Linked DNA regions of Homo sapiens: region 2 is linked to region 1. A link means that fine-mapping ties the variant in region 1 to the expression of a gene that starts in the linked region. Tissue or cell type: whole blood. Region 1 holds a variant in brackets; the other region holds the start of a gene. All regions are shown on one strand. Distances are between the middles of the regions.

Region 1 (8,107 bases):
CAGCCTCCCACCCCACTCCATTCCACTCCTCACACACTTTGCAGACAGGCTTCCCCTGCAGACTTCCGCATTTCTGTTCCTGGCAGCTCCATCCTTCACAGTTGCTCAGACTAAAATCTTGCGGTTTTCTATAATGCCTCTAATTGTTATTATCTACCACTGGCTGACCTTTGATCAGCAAATTTTGTCACCTCTACCTTCAAAATAGATGTATCTCACTGCAACTTTTCATCATGCTTTCCTCATCACTTAGCAAGAATATTGCAAACATCAAACTGATGTCCTTGCTTCAATCCTTGGTTCCCTACAGTCTGTTTTCCACTTAGCTACAAAAGCGACCCCTTTAAAACTGGTTGAGATCATGTCTTTCCTCTGCTCAAAACCCTTACGGCTCTTATCTACTCAGTGTAAAAGGCACAGTCCTTACCATGGCTTAAAGGCCTAGGTAATCCGGTATACCACTCCTATCCCTTGTTCATCCCCAACCACCCAAGCTGTCTCTGATCTCATCTTCTCACCACCCCAGACCCTCTGCTGTTTCACACAGACATCTTTGCTGACCTTCAAACATGCTATCCACTCTTCCAGGCTTGGGGCTTTTGCACCTAATGTTCCCTTTGTTTGAAACACACTTATCCCAGACATCTGCCTGGTTTGAGCTCTCATATCTTTAGGTCTCTGTTCAAATTTCACCTCCACAGACAGGCCTCTTCTGACTGCTCTATATGAAACAGCACCCCCTTTTCTACTACTCCCTTACTCTCCTTAATTTTTAATGGTATTTATCATGTATTTGTCTCCTCTGATAAATATTTACCATATATTTGTCTCTACTACCCGCTGCATGAGTGTAAGATTTTTATCCGTGTTGGTCACTGATAAATCTCCAGCCTCCTAGAAGACTGACACATGGTGTGCACTCAGTGAATACTCGATGAATGAATTAAGGCTAACTTTACCCCAGCATTTCTATCTCCATAAGTCTGAGTTCGAAGACATTTCTGGCTTCTCAACTTTAGTTACCATGAGCTGCTATTGAATGTAAGTTTGTATTAACTAAGCAAGCAAACTATTAGACTCAAACATGTCTTCTCAAGATAGCCTGTTGAATCTATAATTTCTGGTAAATATACCTATACCAGTAAATTCAGTCACATCTAAAATTGTTTCTTCCTTAATCAGGCAACCTCAGTCTCTCTCTACATGTCTTCTCCAGCCTTCTGCTGATATAAGTTAGCAAAGTTGTGCAAAGCCTTCTCTTTCCATTAGACTTTAGAACTGATACTGGGGCATGCCCTGATGATGAATCTGGAGATGCTGATGAGTGGGATGAAGGAGCCTAAGGAAGAATTTGGAGTGTTCCCCCAGGAAAGAAAGCAACAGTGCCCTCCAGCAAGAGGACATCCTCATCAATGTCAGGGGAGGGACTACTTCAAAAAGCAAGGGGGGGCCCACTCATGTTTGGGAATTCGGGACACTCCATGTTTTCAAAGTATACCCATTTCCTCTCATTTCCACCTCTTTCCAGTCAATCAACAAAGGAGACCTGGCAAGCTTATGACTTAGTAGACATTGTGATCTGGCAATGCACAGAATGAAATTAAAGTTGGGAATTGGCCACCTCGGCTTGTTACCTCTGGGGAGAGGGACAGGATTGAAATTGAAGGTGATTTGTGAAGGAGTCTTTATTTTAATCTGTAACTTTTTAAAAAATTAAAGGATTCATGGATTTTATATTAAAATTAATTTCAAAATTATTCCTGCTTTTTTCTTCAGGAATTCAGTAGGGTGGAACAATCACTATTGGGCAGGTACAGCAATATGCCTCTGTGTGACATGTCCCCACAGGCATGTTCCTAGGACCCCTTCTAAAAGTTTGCCACTGTTACATTCCCAGTCCTATAGTATACAGTAAGTCCTCACTTAACATCATGGATAGGTTCTTGGAAACAGCAACTTTAAGCAAAAACAGCATATTGTATGCCATAGGAACTTCATTCTTGTTTATGTCAATTAGCTTATGGTAAAATTGGTTTTGTTACATGGTATGTTGTTTTAACGTCGCTGTTTCTGAGAACCTATCAACAGCGTTAAGTGAGGACTTACTGTATTTGATCCTGTCTTGCCATATTCTCCCTGGCTGTAATTGCTTCTCACCTATGTTCACAGTCTCTCATATCCGCAGATTTGACCCTACCCACTACTTTCCCAATCATAACTGTGGCCTCTTTAGAGTACAACTCTTTCTCTGTGGCAACATATTATTAATCACTTTGAATAACAATACTCATGTCTCAAATTTCCTTTACTCCTATTCACACAGATTGATTTCAGGATAGAACTTAGACAATATTGAATAATATATAATAAGGAATATGTAGGATGGCATAAGATCTAGGAGAGGTGCCAGGACCCCACCTACTGTCATCAGAGAACTCTGCCTATAAGAGATAACTATTTAGGGCCTGGCGCAGTGGCTCACGCCTGTAATCCCAGCACTTTGGGAGGCCAAGGTGGGCGGATCACGAGGTCAGGAGATCGAGACCATCCTGGCTAACACGGTGAAACCCAGTCTCTACTAAAAATACAAAACAAATTAGCTGGGTGTGGTGGCGGGCACCTGTAGTCCTAGCTACTTGGGAGGCTGAGGCAGGAGAATGGTGTGAACCCAGGAGGCGGAGCGTGCAGTGAGCCGAGATGGTGCTACTGCACTCCAGCCTGGGCGACAGAGCAAGACTCCATCTCAAAAAATAAAAAATAATAATAACTACTTAGGATGATGATGATTTTTTTTCTCTGTCACCCAGGCTGGAGTGCAGTGGCGCCATCTCTGCTCACTGCAACCTCTGTCTGCCAGGTTCAAGCAATTCTCCTGCCTCAGCTTCCTGAGTAGCTGGGACTACAGGTGTGAGCCACCACACCTGGCTAATTTTTGTATTTTTAGTAGAGATGGGGTTTCACCATGTTGGCCAGGCTGGTCTCACGTGATCCGCCCACCTCGGCCTCCCAAAGTGCTGGGATTACAGGCATGTGCCACCAACACCCAGCTGGGAATGATGATTTTTAAATATATATGTTCTAGGTGCTTTATATATGTGATTTAATCCTCTCAATAACTCTATCAGGCAGATTCTATTACTATTCCTATTTTATAATTGAAGGAACCAAAGAACATTAAGTGACTTGCCCAGGATCATACAGCTTGCAAATAGTGGAGCTGAAATTCAAACCAGGAAGGCCAGCTCCTGAGTTCCTGCTGTTAATCATGGGTGATAAGACAAAACCCAGTGAGGAAAGAGGATGGCATTCTATCTAGACCAAGGAAACAGTATACTAAAGGCAATGAAAACATTAGAAAGCGTAGTTTGTTTGTGTACAACAAGGCGTTTAGTATGGCAGAAGTATAAGTAGTGGTAAAAATCATTTCATGAAGGGACTTATTTGCCAGATTTTATCTTGTAGAAAATAAGGCATTGTTGGCCGGGCACGGTGGCTAATGCCTGTAATCCCAGCACTTTGCGAGGCCTAGGCGGGTGGATCACGAGGTCAGGAGATCGAGACCATCCTGGCTAACATGGTGAAACCCCGTCTCTACTAAAAATACAAAAATTAGCTGGGCGAGGTGGCAGGCGTCTGTAGTCCCAGCTACTCAGGAGGCTGAGAGAGGAGAATGGCGTGAACCCAGGAGGCAGAGGTTGCAGTGAGCCGAGATCTCGCCATTGCACTCCAGCCTGGGCGACAGAGTGAGACTCCGTCTCTAAAAAAAATAAAATAAAATAATAAAAAAAAAGAAAAGAAGGCGTTGTTGAAAGTTTTTTAAGCAGGACAATAACATGATCAGAATTGTACTTTTGAACAATCCCCCTGGTAGGGATGAAAGTTGGACTGGAATAGACTGAAACCAGAGGTACAGACTATTCAGATGCGTTTGTGTTGTCCTAAGGAGATGAAGAGGGCTAACCAGAGCAGCAACACTAATAACGGAAAAAGAGGAGAGGAAGTTGAATGCCACAAAATGAAACTGAAACTTTTGTATTTCAAATGTTTCAACAGTATTCTAGAGGGAAGTAAGATAATGGTGTTCCTCTATTTGCCTCTGACTTCTTGTTAATGAAATAGTACTCATTAAAGTCTTCAGAGTCACAGATA[T/C]TGTATAGCTGAGGTAAGCATTTTACAACTTTTCAGACACAAGTAAGTACATAAATATTATTTTACAACCAACAATATTTAATATTTCCACATTGAAGAATAGATGTGATAATTAAATCTTTTATAAGGTTTTAAAAAGACATGAAACATAAACCTAATTATACATAAAAGAAAAGAATTTTAAACAAGAGCTTATTGTGATGACATTACTCATAACTTTTACCTTTAAAACCTTTTCTTGGGTAGCTATTCAAAAGTAAAGACCACAAGTTTTGTTGCCCAGATTTCTTATGTTTTGTATATTTAAGCTCTTTATTTATTGAACAGATGTGTCATTAATTCATTTGGAGCATTACTATTATCAGTAAAATTTGATTTTTTTTTCCCCTCAGTCATAGGTAAATCAGCTCCACCTGGAATTTCTAAGGACCCAGTTTTAGTCAATATTTTCAAGTAATCATGACCTCAGAAATAGTCTTAATTAAGATAACAAATATTAGCCATCAAAATGGAACCAAGACAAGATTCTAATGTTTGTAAACAGTCAATCCATATTTATGAATATTAGCATATATTGGTGAATAGTTAAGGCAAAAGGTTCTAGCAGATGTAATCTATTTCCATCAACATGTTAAATGTTATAAAAGTCTAGAATTATTGGTAACATGAAATGATTCCAAAATGGAATTTCTGTGTTACAGAATTTACTAGAAAAGTGCTGTGAAAGTATAATGAAAAATAAAGTGATCCCTTGAAATAATGTGGATAGAACAAGCTTTTGAATATTTACATGGATTAATGAATTATTTGCCAAATTCTCCTGAAGTTATACCTAGTTCCCATTAAATTAATGGACACCGTGTATATGAGCATATACCTTTCTTTAGAACTATGTTTTGTGATAAGTCCATTTTTACTCACAGGAATTTACTTAAACTTGTACATATATTAATTATATATACTAAATGACAATGACCTTATCTGAAACAAATACATTGTATAATATCAAAACGTTTTTAGTCTTTTTTAAAAAGTAAAAAGTAAAAAACAACGTCAGTTACATCATTTACATTTGGTATCCCACCTAATAGAGACACAGCTTTTGAAATCTACAATATTTTACATTTTGGTCATCATTTAATGCTATTTGCATTTCTCTTTAACATTTTAATAGTATTTGTGATATATCATGTTTAACTGAAAGCTTTGGGTTATATATTTTAAAGGAATATCTTACTTTTTGACTAAATAGTTCTGTAAGGGCCTAATATTTGAAAAATTAGCTTGTTACCTGAAGCAACTATCCTCCTTAATCATTTTAAAATAATGGGTAAAGATGCATCTTTGTAAATATATTTTGAAAACTTGGTTAGTGTATTAGAAACAGACACCAGAAATTAAAAAAATTATTTCTAGGACTGGCATACACTACAGTGAATTACTTCAAATGTTACTCTAGAGCATTTTTAAAAATACGCAGAATACTGCTGTTCTCTCTGAGATGATCCCTTTTTACGATGATGAAATTAAACACATTTAAAAAGTCTTTTAAATATTATATATAGCATTCCAGAATTGATGAATTATAAAAATTACAGATACTTCTGTTTGGGTAAAAATCTATCTTTTAGTTTCTGATAGTAAAATAAGCAATCTACCAGCCAGGGTTGAAATATATAGTATTTTAACTACTGTTCTATATATTTCAAAATTCATGTTTTCTATCTGTCCTAGAGAAACTTAGCCTTCTATGAAGTGAATCACTTAATGATATTATTGCTTTGGAGATAAAATTGGCCTCAGAGTATGATAGCCTGTAAGTAAATGCTTCATTACCCACATATCCCTACCCACCCCCCCCAAAAAAACCTACCAGTAGTCTAGTACAGTAGTGAGCAATCTTAAATTAAAAGCTATTGTTCACACAGAGCAGAGGAAGATAATTTTCATGTTAAAGCAGTTTTCAACATCAAACATCTAAGGAGTTATAAACTATAAATGAATTACCTTTAAACCCTGGTCTTCACAGTTACATTGCTTTCTGAATGCTTTTTGGGGTGACATTATGCTACCACATTTTTAAACGGTTTAAATGACAAGTATTTTATATTTCATGAATGATAAATGAACAAGTTTAATTATATAGATATTAGTTCCCTTAGTCTGGGAACCAAAATGCTGTAGGGTTGTTCTGTTGCAAAGTAAATGATATAGATTAAGTTTGTCTCAGAATGAAGATTACCCAAATAATTATAGCCTGAAAAGAGTGATATACCTTCAGATGTGCTTAAATCATGGCCCAAATACAGATTACTTTGTGTAGAATCCAGCCTACTGAATAAATTTTATTATTTTTTTGTTTGAGACAGAGTTTTCTCTGTCACCCATGCTGGAGTGCAGTGGCTCAGTCTTGGCTCACTGCAACCTCTTCCTCTCAGGTTCAAGCGATTCTCCTGCCTCAGCCTCCCAAGTAGCTAGGATTACAGGCATGTACCACCATGCCCGGCTAATTTTTGTATTTTTAATAGAGACAGCGTTTCACATGTTTGGCCAGGCTGGTCTCAAACTCCTGACCTCAAGTGATCTGCCTGCCTTGACATTCCAAAGTGCTGGGATTACAGGCGTGAGCTACCACACCCAGCCAACAATTATTTTTTAAATACAGCAAGTAATACAAGCAATAGAAAAAGTTTCAATAGAAATTAAAAGAATTGTAAATCTAATGTATAATTCTCAATATTGCTAATTGCTTGCAAGTGTTCATTGGATAACAGCATAACAACAAAGGACTCCTTTAAAATGCATTGTTTTTCAGCTTTATTTCAAATGCTGTGTAGCATAAGAACCTAGCCGTCAGACATCATTTTTTAGCTATGAAAAATATGAAACAAGGCATATTCTAAAGTGCTGAAGGAATTAATTGCCCTATTAGATAACGAATACCTGGAGGAATGAACAGAGTGATTTATGGCTTAAAGTGCTTGGGTCTGATCATCATCTTAGCCTCTTTGAAGGAGGACTTGTAGCCACCAGGGTGTGCCTCACTTACACCAGGCCAGGTACCCCAGAAAATCCCATTACGGACACCTCTGTATTTTTGGTGATAATATTTGCCATTTAAGTTTGCAGAAAGACATGCATCAAACCACCAGCCTGAACTGTAGTACAGCCCACAGTTCCCAGAAGGATATCGATCATTGTCTTTATCTGGAGTGGTGAAAAACTTCAGATCGTGGTTGTAATGTTTGTTGAAACGTAATGCATCTCCAGCTGTGCCATTATAGTTACCAACGTGTAAACGATATTTGAGAAACTCATTAGCCACATAAAACTGATCATACAAGGCATATAGTTCGACACCATTAAAGTCTTCAAGATCTATTCTCAGAATCATTTCCTTACTCTTGGTCAGAAGATGAATTTTATCGTTCCCCAGCCAAAATTCCCTTCTGAGGTTTCCAAAGCCTGCTTTGTAGTCTTGCCATGTTCTGGTGAAGTTGGTGCTCCCATCGAGACGTGCCTGCAGCACTGTCCAGCCTCCCCCCATGGTCTCCATGTCACAGTAAACTTCAAAGCTACTATTTTTGGGATCAGGTGTAACTCTGTAGGTCTCACTGCTTCTTTTGCCTATTGCGTAGTAGTCAGAGCAATCTTTATATATTAGATGTTGAACTGAAGGGGAAATAAAAGGAAGGCATTGGATCTTGTTAATAGAAACCATGCATCTGAAGAATTCTTTATATGTACAAAAGCAGTTTGATAATTGAATCAATGGCAGTAATGAAACTTTACTAAACTTACTTGAACCTGTTTAGCAAATGCTTAAGGCCTCACAAGAAGAACCTAATGTTATAAAGCAGAAAGGACCTCTAATATACTCTTGGTTGGTAGTAATAATGACAGCATCAACAGCAAACGACAATAAGAAAATAATAAAAGTACAGTTTTAATAATTTAG
Region 2 (8,107 bases), 70 kb before region 1:
CTTACTCTTTAATAAAATGGAAGAAAATCATTTGTGGAAACTAAAATTTCTTTAGTAAGATTTCAGAATACTAGGAAAATACTATTAGTTTCACTGTACACTTTGAAATTAAATCAAAAAGAAATTTGAGGCAAAACCTCAAAACTGCTATAACCTCTGTACTTTACTAGAACTGATTTCAAGGCAAAATGTTTGCCAAGGACTTTCTGAGAGATGAATAAATGACAATGTTCTGAAAAACAGAAGAATCTCTTGAGTTTGATAGTACGATTCATAGCTTAAGGCTTTTAAAAAAATAATAGTGAAATAAAATTAGAAAAATGCTATACCTTAACAGACTGCAAGATGCTAGTCCCATGCTCTGTTTCAATTTTGCAATTATCACCCTCAATACTTTGAACTTCTACACAGCCAGACCCTGATGACTTGATATCTAAACCTAGAAGTAAAAAAAGAAAAAAGCAAGTTAGTACTGCAGTTTATAAGCTCCAAAGCATTTTAACCTAGAAACCCAACTCCTCAGTTATGTCCATAATATTGCTGAATCCTGGAAAGTGCATACTGTAAAGGTAAGGGGTCTTCTACCACGGCAACGGGACCAAATACAATAGCCTTTCTGCCCGTTTTTAGAAACAGAGCAGTTATTTCTACTGGCCTAAATCACCTAAAGAGAACTAACATAGATGGGAAGTAAAGGAGACTACGATTCTGTTAAGTACTCCTGTGAAAGACTGTAGAAGCCTCTTCCCCAGTATATATGATCATGACTTAGGTTTTCAAATCCTATGTCTAACCTTTCATACTTAAAAAATGAAAATATTACCATGCAACTATATCACAAGGTATTTGAAGTAATTTTTTAAAAATGGGAACAACTTTGAAAAACCTAATATATACTATTAAAACTACAAGATTAGGCCATGAGCCGTGGCTCATGCCTGTAATACCAGCACTTTGGGAGGCCGAGGAAGGAGGATTGCTTGAAGCCCAGGAGTTCAAGACCAGCCTGGACAATGTGGCAAAACTCCCTTTCTACAAAAAAACAAAAACATTAGCCAGGCATGGTAGCATGCACCTGTAGTCCCAGCTACTCAGGAGGCGGAGGCGAGAAGATTGCTTAAAACCGTGAAGTCAAGACTGCAGTGGGCCATGATTGTGCACCTGTACTCCAGCCTGCATGGCAGAGTGAGTGAGATGCAGTCTCAAAAAAAACCAAAACAAACAAACAAAAAACCCCACAAGATTGTGGACAAATGGCAGTGGTACATGAAGCAAGTTTGGAAAATAAGGAATTACAAATGCCATCCTTGGCTGTCTATTTAAGATGTAACTGCAGGCATCGCTGTATACAAATTTTAAAAATTAAAAACGCTGATATTTAATTTGGAATTAACATAAATATTGATGATTTCTCTTAAAGTAGGCAAGACCCGCCCCCCCGACTTGATTCCTGAAACCACAAATAGTACCAAATCCTATATATTCTATGTTTTTTCCTGTATACATATCAATGATCAAGTTTAATTTATAAACTAGGCATAGTAAGAGATGAACAACAATAATAATAAATACAGCAATTATAACAATATACTGTAATAAAAGTTATATTACTGTGATCTGTCAAAATATCTTAATATTTTCCTACAACAGTTGAGGCAGGTAACAAACTCAGACAGCCAAACGGTGGATAAGGGAGGACTACGGCATCTACTATTTGGGCAACTGTAAGCATTATAAAAGATGATCTTAAAAATGCTAAATGCTATTATTATTACCATCATCATCATCATCAATATCTTCCTTCAGTCCCAGGAAGAATGACAGTCTGGGGAGCCCTTCCTAGAAAAGTGTGTGTACACAGTGGCTTGCCATTTAGGAAAACCTAAGAAAGGTATCTTGCAGGCATTATTATTGAAGCTTCCTAGGCAGGCTTACCATGTGTTTTTCTTCAAAGCTTGCTACTCATGGAAAACTTAGGCCAAAAAGAATGGAAACATAACAGTAAGAAGCTGGGCGCCCGTCTAAAACCAAATACTCAAACCAGGTGGTACCTGGAACATCCTATTGACAGGGCTGTTTTGGGACACACCCCCAGGCTGTGAGCAAGGGGAAATGTAGATGGACTGCCATACCATTGAATGAATTGTCAAGAAACTTCAACCTTGAAAAATAAGCCAGTTTGCTAATGACAACGGGATAAAGAAGAACACAAGCGGCTCCAGAAATAGAATTTGACCTGGATTATACCAAATCGTGTTTCCATTCGATGTATAAAATTTCTATAATTGGGAACCTAATTTTTTAAATACTACTCGGATACTCAAGAATAGAACAGAGGAAAAGTTGCATTTCCGAAGGGGCCAACTGTAAATTAGGTTTAGAAAGCCAGGACCAATTAAAAGTGCACGTCGACCAAATTTATTAAGTTCACTGTGCGTTCCCTGGGACCCAAACCCGTTTTCACTTCACTTCACTTGCCAAACTTCAGGGGCGCGTTCACCTCCACGGACGCCTGGGGGTGGATAGTATCAGACACAATGGCCATCTCCTCCAGATCCTCGTCGTACTTCACCTGCAGGCCGTCCAGGCCCCGCACGCCGCCCTCCACGCCGCACACCGCGACCAGCACGCGGTCGCCATCCGGGTAGGTGAGGGGGTCCAGGGGCCTCACGGCCAGGTGGCACGGGAGCCGCGCCCGCAGCCGACCGAACGGGCTCACCTGCAGTGTCCACTCCTTCAGAGTTCGGCGCGCCGGGCCAGGCGGAGGGACCTCAGTCTCCGATCCGGGCCAGCGCTCGCCCCTACCTGAGCTGTACGGCCTGGCTTGGCAAGCCCAGCAAGACCAGCGCCCAGCGCCAGCCCACAGTCGGACCTGACGGAGACAGAGACGGAAGCAGCCAAGCTCCCAACCTGAACAGGGGGCAAGCATGGCGCGCCTCTCTCGCCAGTCCTCAGAACACTTCAGCCACAGGGAGGGTCACTTGCCACGGCCAATCGACTTGGCCACTGTGCCGCCTCAAGTCAAATAGGAGACGTAAGTCAGGGTTTGCTGAAACAAGAGCGAGCCGGTTGGCTTGACTAGGCGATGTAAACATCAGCTGCGTAATCCCCAGGGGCAAGTTGGGATTTGAAAGCTCTGAACTCTGACCTGGACCCCTTGCCTAAGTCCACCCCCTTTCGCTAAGGCCGACGGGATACGTAGTTCTAAAGCGGTGGAAAGTCGCAGAGCTCCGCCTCTTAGAAACCACATATCCCAGGAGGCAATGCGCAGGGGAGCACGGGTAAGAGGGCAGGTGTTAGAATCGCTGGAAAGGCGGGCGCCCTTTGTTTCAAGACCATTGGCTATTGGAGGGGCGGTACATGGGAGGCCACTGGCCAATGGGAAGCACGGAAGGGGGCAACGAGGGTAAAGCTGCATGGTCACCTTGGATACCAAGGACGCGACTTCTTGTTTGGAGAGGGTGGAGCTTTGGAGTGAGACCCAGGAGGCCAAATCCCAAAGAGAAAAATAGGAGCCTAAATAAGGATCAGGACCAAGGGAAGGGGTAAGAAACTGCGCTTTTTAAGTTGACAACTAGGTGCAAACTAGGAGTAACCTATGTGGATGTCAAGATCCAAGCTTCACTAACCTAGTGCGGGCATCTCCAGGGCATGGAGAATGCCTTGGTAAGAGAGTAAAGAGCAAGATTGGTGCTTTTTGAGGGAATTGCCTCTTTGGAAGTGTATTCCCTCCTATATTCCAAATATAGGAATAGAGTACTTGCTCCGTCCTGACCCTAAGTGACCTTACTTTGGGTTTTAATTTGCTCACTTTAAAAATGTAGATGATAATACCTTCCTTGCCTTGCCTCAAAGGGTTTTTGTGAGGATCAAGTAAGAAAATGGATGGGACCGTGGTGCACAGTCTACCAAATTACCGTGTAAAGTACTGTATTTTTATTTCAACGTACTTAACATTGATTCTGAGTTACCAAGAAAATTATGAGAGATCAGAACTTGTTTTGAGAATAGCATTGATCTCTTTGACTACAAATGATCATCAGTTTTAGAGTGAAAAAAAAAAAGACACAAAAAAGAGAGTCACCATGGTGCGGTGGAAAGAGCAGGGACAAGGGTCAGATTATTTTCCTGGCTCTGCCACTGCTTCATCTGTGTCACCTAGACCTGTTTCTTTAGTTTTAAAATGAAGAAAGATGGTTCTAAATGACCCTATAAGGTGTGTGTGTGTGTGTGTGTGTGTGTGTGTGTGTGTGTGTGTGTGTGTGTGTGTTTACCTTTTATAATTCTATGGGCAGTAAAATAATGGGAACAGAAAGATTTATTTTCTTCTTTTTTTCTTCTTTCCTGCCTGGTTTCTCTCTCCCCCTCTGTGCCCCTACTTCCTCCTAAAATGTATTCCCTAAATTATTTAGCCAAGACACCTGCAAACACTAACATTTCATAAAATGCAAGTGCCTTAAAAAATTGAAGCCCTTACCCAAGTACAATGACCAGAATTCTTGGGGCTATCGTGATAGATAGACTGGGCTAAAGTTCTCATGGGTACAAGTCTCAGGTTCTCTGCTAGCCACTACCTTTTTAAAATTTTTAAAAATTCAGTGTTCTCTTAAGTTATCATTGCCTCTTTTCTGTCCTTCTAGTCCTTGCTCCCTCCTTATTCTTCTTTCGGTGAAGACTCACTCATTATAGGTGCTAGCTCAGGTTCAGCAAGGGCCCACTGCAATAGTTCTTTTCTTGTCTTTGTGTTTCATTGGTTATAATTATTCAGAATAATCTTCAAACTATTTTTTATGAAAATTGACAGGTGTAACTTTGAAAAGAAATTTGAAAAAGGCACTGGTTTAAGGAAGTTGAGAATGTACTCAAATTTTCTGTAGAAACACTAGACATTTTTAGATTAAATATTAATTCTTAATAGTTAATTCTGTGTCTATGGTAATTTTTCCGTTTCTGAGACAAACTAAGTTAATGGAATTGGCAACTGAACTATAATTTTCTATGTTGCATAATCATTATTTTACTTTTTCAAACAAAAACCAAATAGAATTGACTGAAAATTTACTTTGCTGATCATACAAGGTTGAAAATGGAGAAAATTATTAATATTAAGATTGGTATAAAATAGTTAAAGTTATAGACACTTAAAAACAGTATAATGAGTATCAAATCTGTCCACATATCAACAATGATTAATAAAAGTTGTATCTTCCATCCATATGACATTATAATTGTCAAACCATGTTCACATGCGTCATCTCACTGTATCCTCACTAATTAGGAGGGAAATTATTCTCCTCACACTATAGATGGGGAAACAGATTCAGAAACATTAAGATTAAGCAATTAGAAGGTCTGGCCCTTTTATCACTCTACCAAAACGTCCATTTTCCTGACACCTTTGAAGAAAAAATGAAATTATTCACCTCATAAGTAGAAAATTATATACAACTTTTTTCTCCTTATTTAGAGTTTGTTTCTAAGATATTTTCACATCTTAGTTTAAAAAAGCTATTTCTGTGGTCATGAACATATACTTCTGGTAGGAGTGTTAAGTTAGCACAAAATTTTTAGAGTTCAATTCAGCAATAAGAATGAAAAGCTTTTTCTATGACTCAGAAATTGTGCTTTTGGGGATGTAAGCATAAAATTAGGGATGCTCAAGGAATTATGTTTTATAGGGTTACTTGTAAGAGAAAATAATTGCATCAATTTAAATGCTCCCTGGCCAGGTGCAGTGGCTCATGCCTGTAATTTCAGCACTTTGGGAGGCTGAGACAGGTGGATCACCTGAGGTCAGGAGTTCAGGACCAGCCTGGCCAACATGGTGAAACTCCATCTCTACTAAAAATTAAAAAAATTAGCTTGGCGTAGTGATGGACACCTGTAATCCCAGCTACTCAGGAGGCTGAGACAGGAGAATCACTTAAACACAGGAGGTAGAGGTTGCAGTGAGCCGAGATCACACCACTGCACTCCAGCCTGGGCGGCAAGAGTGAAACTCTGTCTCAATAAAAAAATGTTAAATGCTCCCAAATAAGACAGTATTACATAAATTAGTATATAGCTGATATATTATGCAACAATTTAAACATATCTTGATATGGGAAATAGTCCATATATAAAGTGAAAAGAATATATACAAAATTGCACGTATAGTATGATCTCAATTGTGTAATAATAATAATAAATTTAACATAAAATTATACTTTACAGAAACAATTCCAGAGGGATATATACCACTTGATAACAGTTGTTATCTTTAAGCAGTGATATGATGAGTGGTTACTGCAATTTTTTGTGTGTTATCAATAGTGAAAATATATTACATTTATAAGAAAACAATTTTAAAGCATTTCTTAGCATATATTGTTTCCTAAAACTGACTCAAATAATCAGATGGGCAGAAGATTTCTTACCATCTAGATATAAATGTCAACGAATATTTTATTTAATGATTTATGTTCAATAAATGGACAGCAGAGGTCATAAGAGAGTTTTCAGAAGAAAAGGTAACCAAAACAAAGAATTCAGCAATTTAGCTTAAGAGAAAAGCCATAAGAATTTAACTTTCTGAATTATAAACTATTTAAAAAGAGATATATCTTATGACTTCTATTATTCTTATGAAATATTAATAAACTCAACAATCTTAACTAATAACTATCAACATTGAGAAGTATTTAATGAATATATATAGGTACTAATTCTATTTGAAATCTCTATGTGAAACTGCAAATAGACAGTTTTATTTCTTCCTTTCTCATCTGTATGGCTTTTCTTTCCTAGTGTTATTGCACTGGCTAAGACCGCCACTACAATATTGAGTTGGAGTGGCAAAAGCAAAAATCCTTGATTTATTTCCTATTTATGAGGGAAATTTCAACAACAATTAGGAAGTTAGCAGTAGATTTTTAAAGATGCCCTTTAGCAAGTTAAGGAAGTTTACTTTCTAATTTGCTTAGACTTTTTATCATAAGTGAATGTTGCATTTTGTCAAATGCTTTTTCTGTATCTATGAAGATGATCATATTGTTTTTCTTCTGATTTATTGATATGTGTATTACAGTGATTGATTTTCAAGTGTTTCATTCCCTCAATAAGCTACATTTCATCATGTTATTGTCAGGGAGTTTTGGGTTGTCAATTTCCTGGCCAGAAACCTCTGTGGCCACAGCACCTTTGCCCGAATTCTTGTCCTGCATCCAGGAAGAATGAGGTACGCAGACAAGTGAAGGGTGAACGAGACGAAGATGAGCTTTATTAAGTGTTACAAGAGCTCAGAGGAGACCCACAGTGGGTAGCTCCTCTCTGTAGGAAGATCATCTGTCCAGCATTCAGTTCTCATTAGAGAGGTGGCCCTGGAGAGGGTAGCTCCTCTCTACTACTGGTTGTCCCAATGTCTGCAGCTCTCAGTGGAGAGGAGGCCCTGGAGAGGGTGCCTCCTGTCTGCTGGCAGGTTGTCTCTGAAGCTCTCGGCAGAGACGGTAGCTCCTTTCTGCAGCTGGTCCTTGTGTAGTCTGTCTATCCTCTTCGTCCTTTGGCCATCGTCTGCCCTGCTCTGGCTGAGCCCAGGGCTTTTATGGACCTCAGAGGGGAGGAAGTGCATGCTGATTGGTCCATGGGCAGCCATGGGCTGCTGGAAGAGGCCCCATGAGTCCCCAAACTGGTATGCAGGACCAGCAGTTGGCCCCCAGCCTTCAGGCCCTCCCTGGACTGAAGGTAGAGCCTTACTGGGGACCTGCCCCCTTCCACCCAAGAATCTGTCTGCCTCCCGCTGCCATTCATGGCCCCAGGGCTCAACCCCAACCCCACTCCAAGATCTGAGCCAGCTCCAGGAGAGGAGAGAGGTCAGGCAGCGGGAGCAGACACCCCAAGCCTGCAGGGATGGGGGGCCTTCCGGGGCACCAGAGGGTACAGGCTGCAGAGATGCCTGGGTCCCGTGGGTGAGAGGGCAGTGGCAGCTGCACCCAGGGAGCTCCCGCAGGCCAACTCAGCAGGGGCGGGATTCCCCAGCTCCTGCCTGCTCCATGTTGTGGGAGGCCCAGGTCAGCAGCTGCTGGTCAGGCGGCTGCAGCTGCACCCAAGAGGGCAGATCCTGCCTGTTCCC

Evidence for each region. PIP is the estimated chance that this variant, and not a neighbour inherited with it, causes the effect.
Region 2: CCDC146 starts here. The variant in region 1 is fine-mapped to the expression of CCDC146 in whole blood (INTERVAL, PIP above 0.99). The same link has a PIP of 0.9 or more in blood mononuclear cells.

The regions. Positions count from the first base shown.
Region 1 is chr7:77,189,165-77,197,271 of GRCh38, forward strand. The region is part of intron 2 of CCDC146 (coiled-coil domain containing 146); the gene reads left to right. It overlaps FGL2 (fibrinogen like 2), which reads right to left. Exons shown (of 2, transcript NM_006682.3): 2 at 4,205-7,821. The coding sequence ends at 7,115. Among named protein-coding and RNA genes, the nearest start is that of FGL2, 6.6 kb to the right of the region's middle. The variant T/C (reference allele first, on the strand shown) is at 4,150.
Region 2 is chr7:77,119,188-77,127,294 of GRCh38, forward strand. It overlaps CCDC146 (coiled-coil domain containing 146), which reads left to right and starts at 3,428. Exons shown (of 19, transcript NM_020879.3): 1 at 3,428-3,545. It overlaps LOC124901678 (a long non-coding RNA gene), which reads right to left. Exons shown (of 3, transcript XR_007060391.1): 3 at 7,319-7,585. It also overlaps the pseudogene FAM185BP. RefSeq lists enhancers at 2,217-2,718, 2,719-3,218 and a silencer at 3,114-3,213.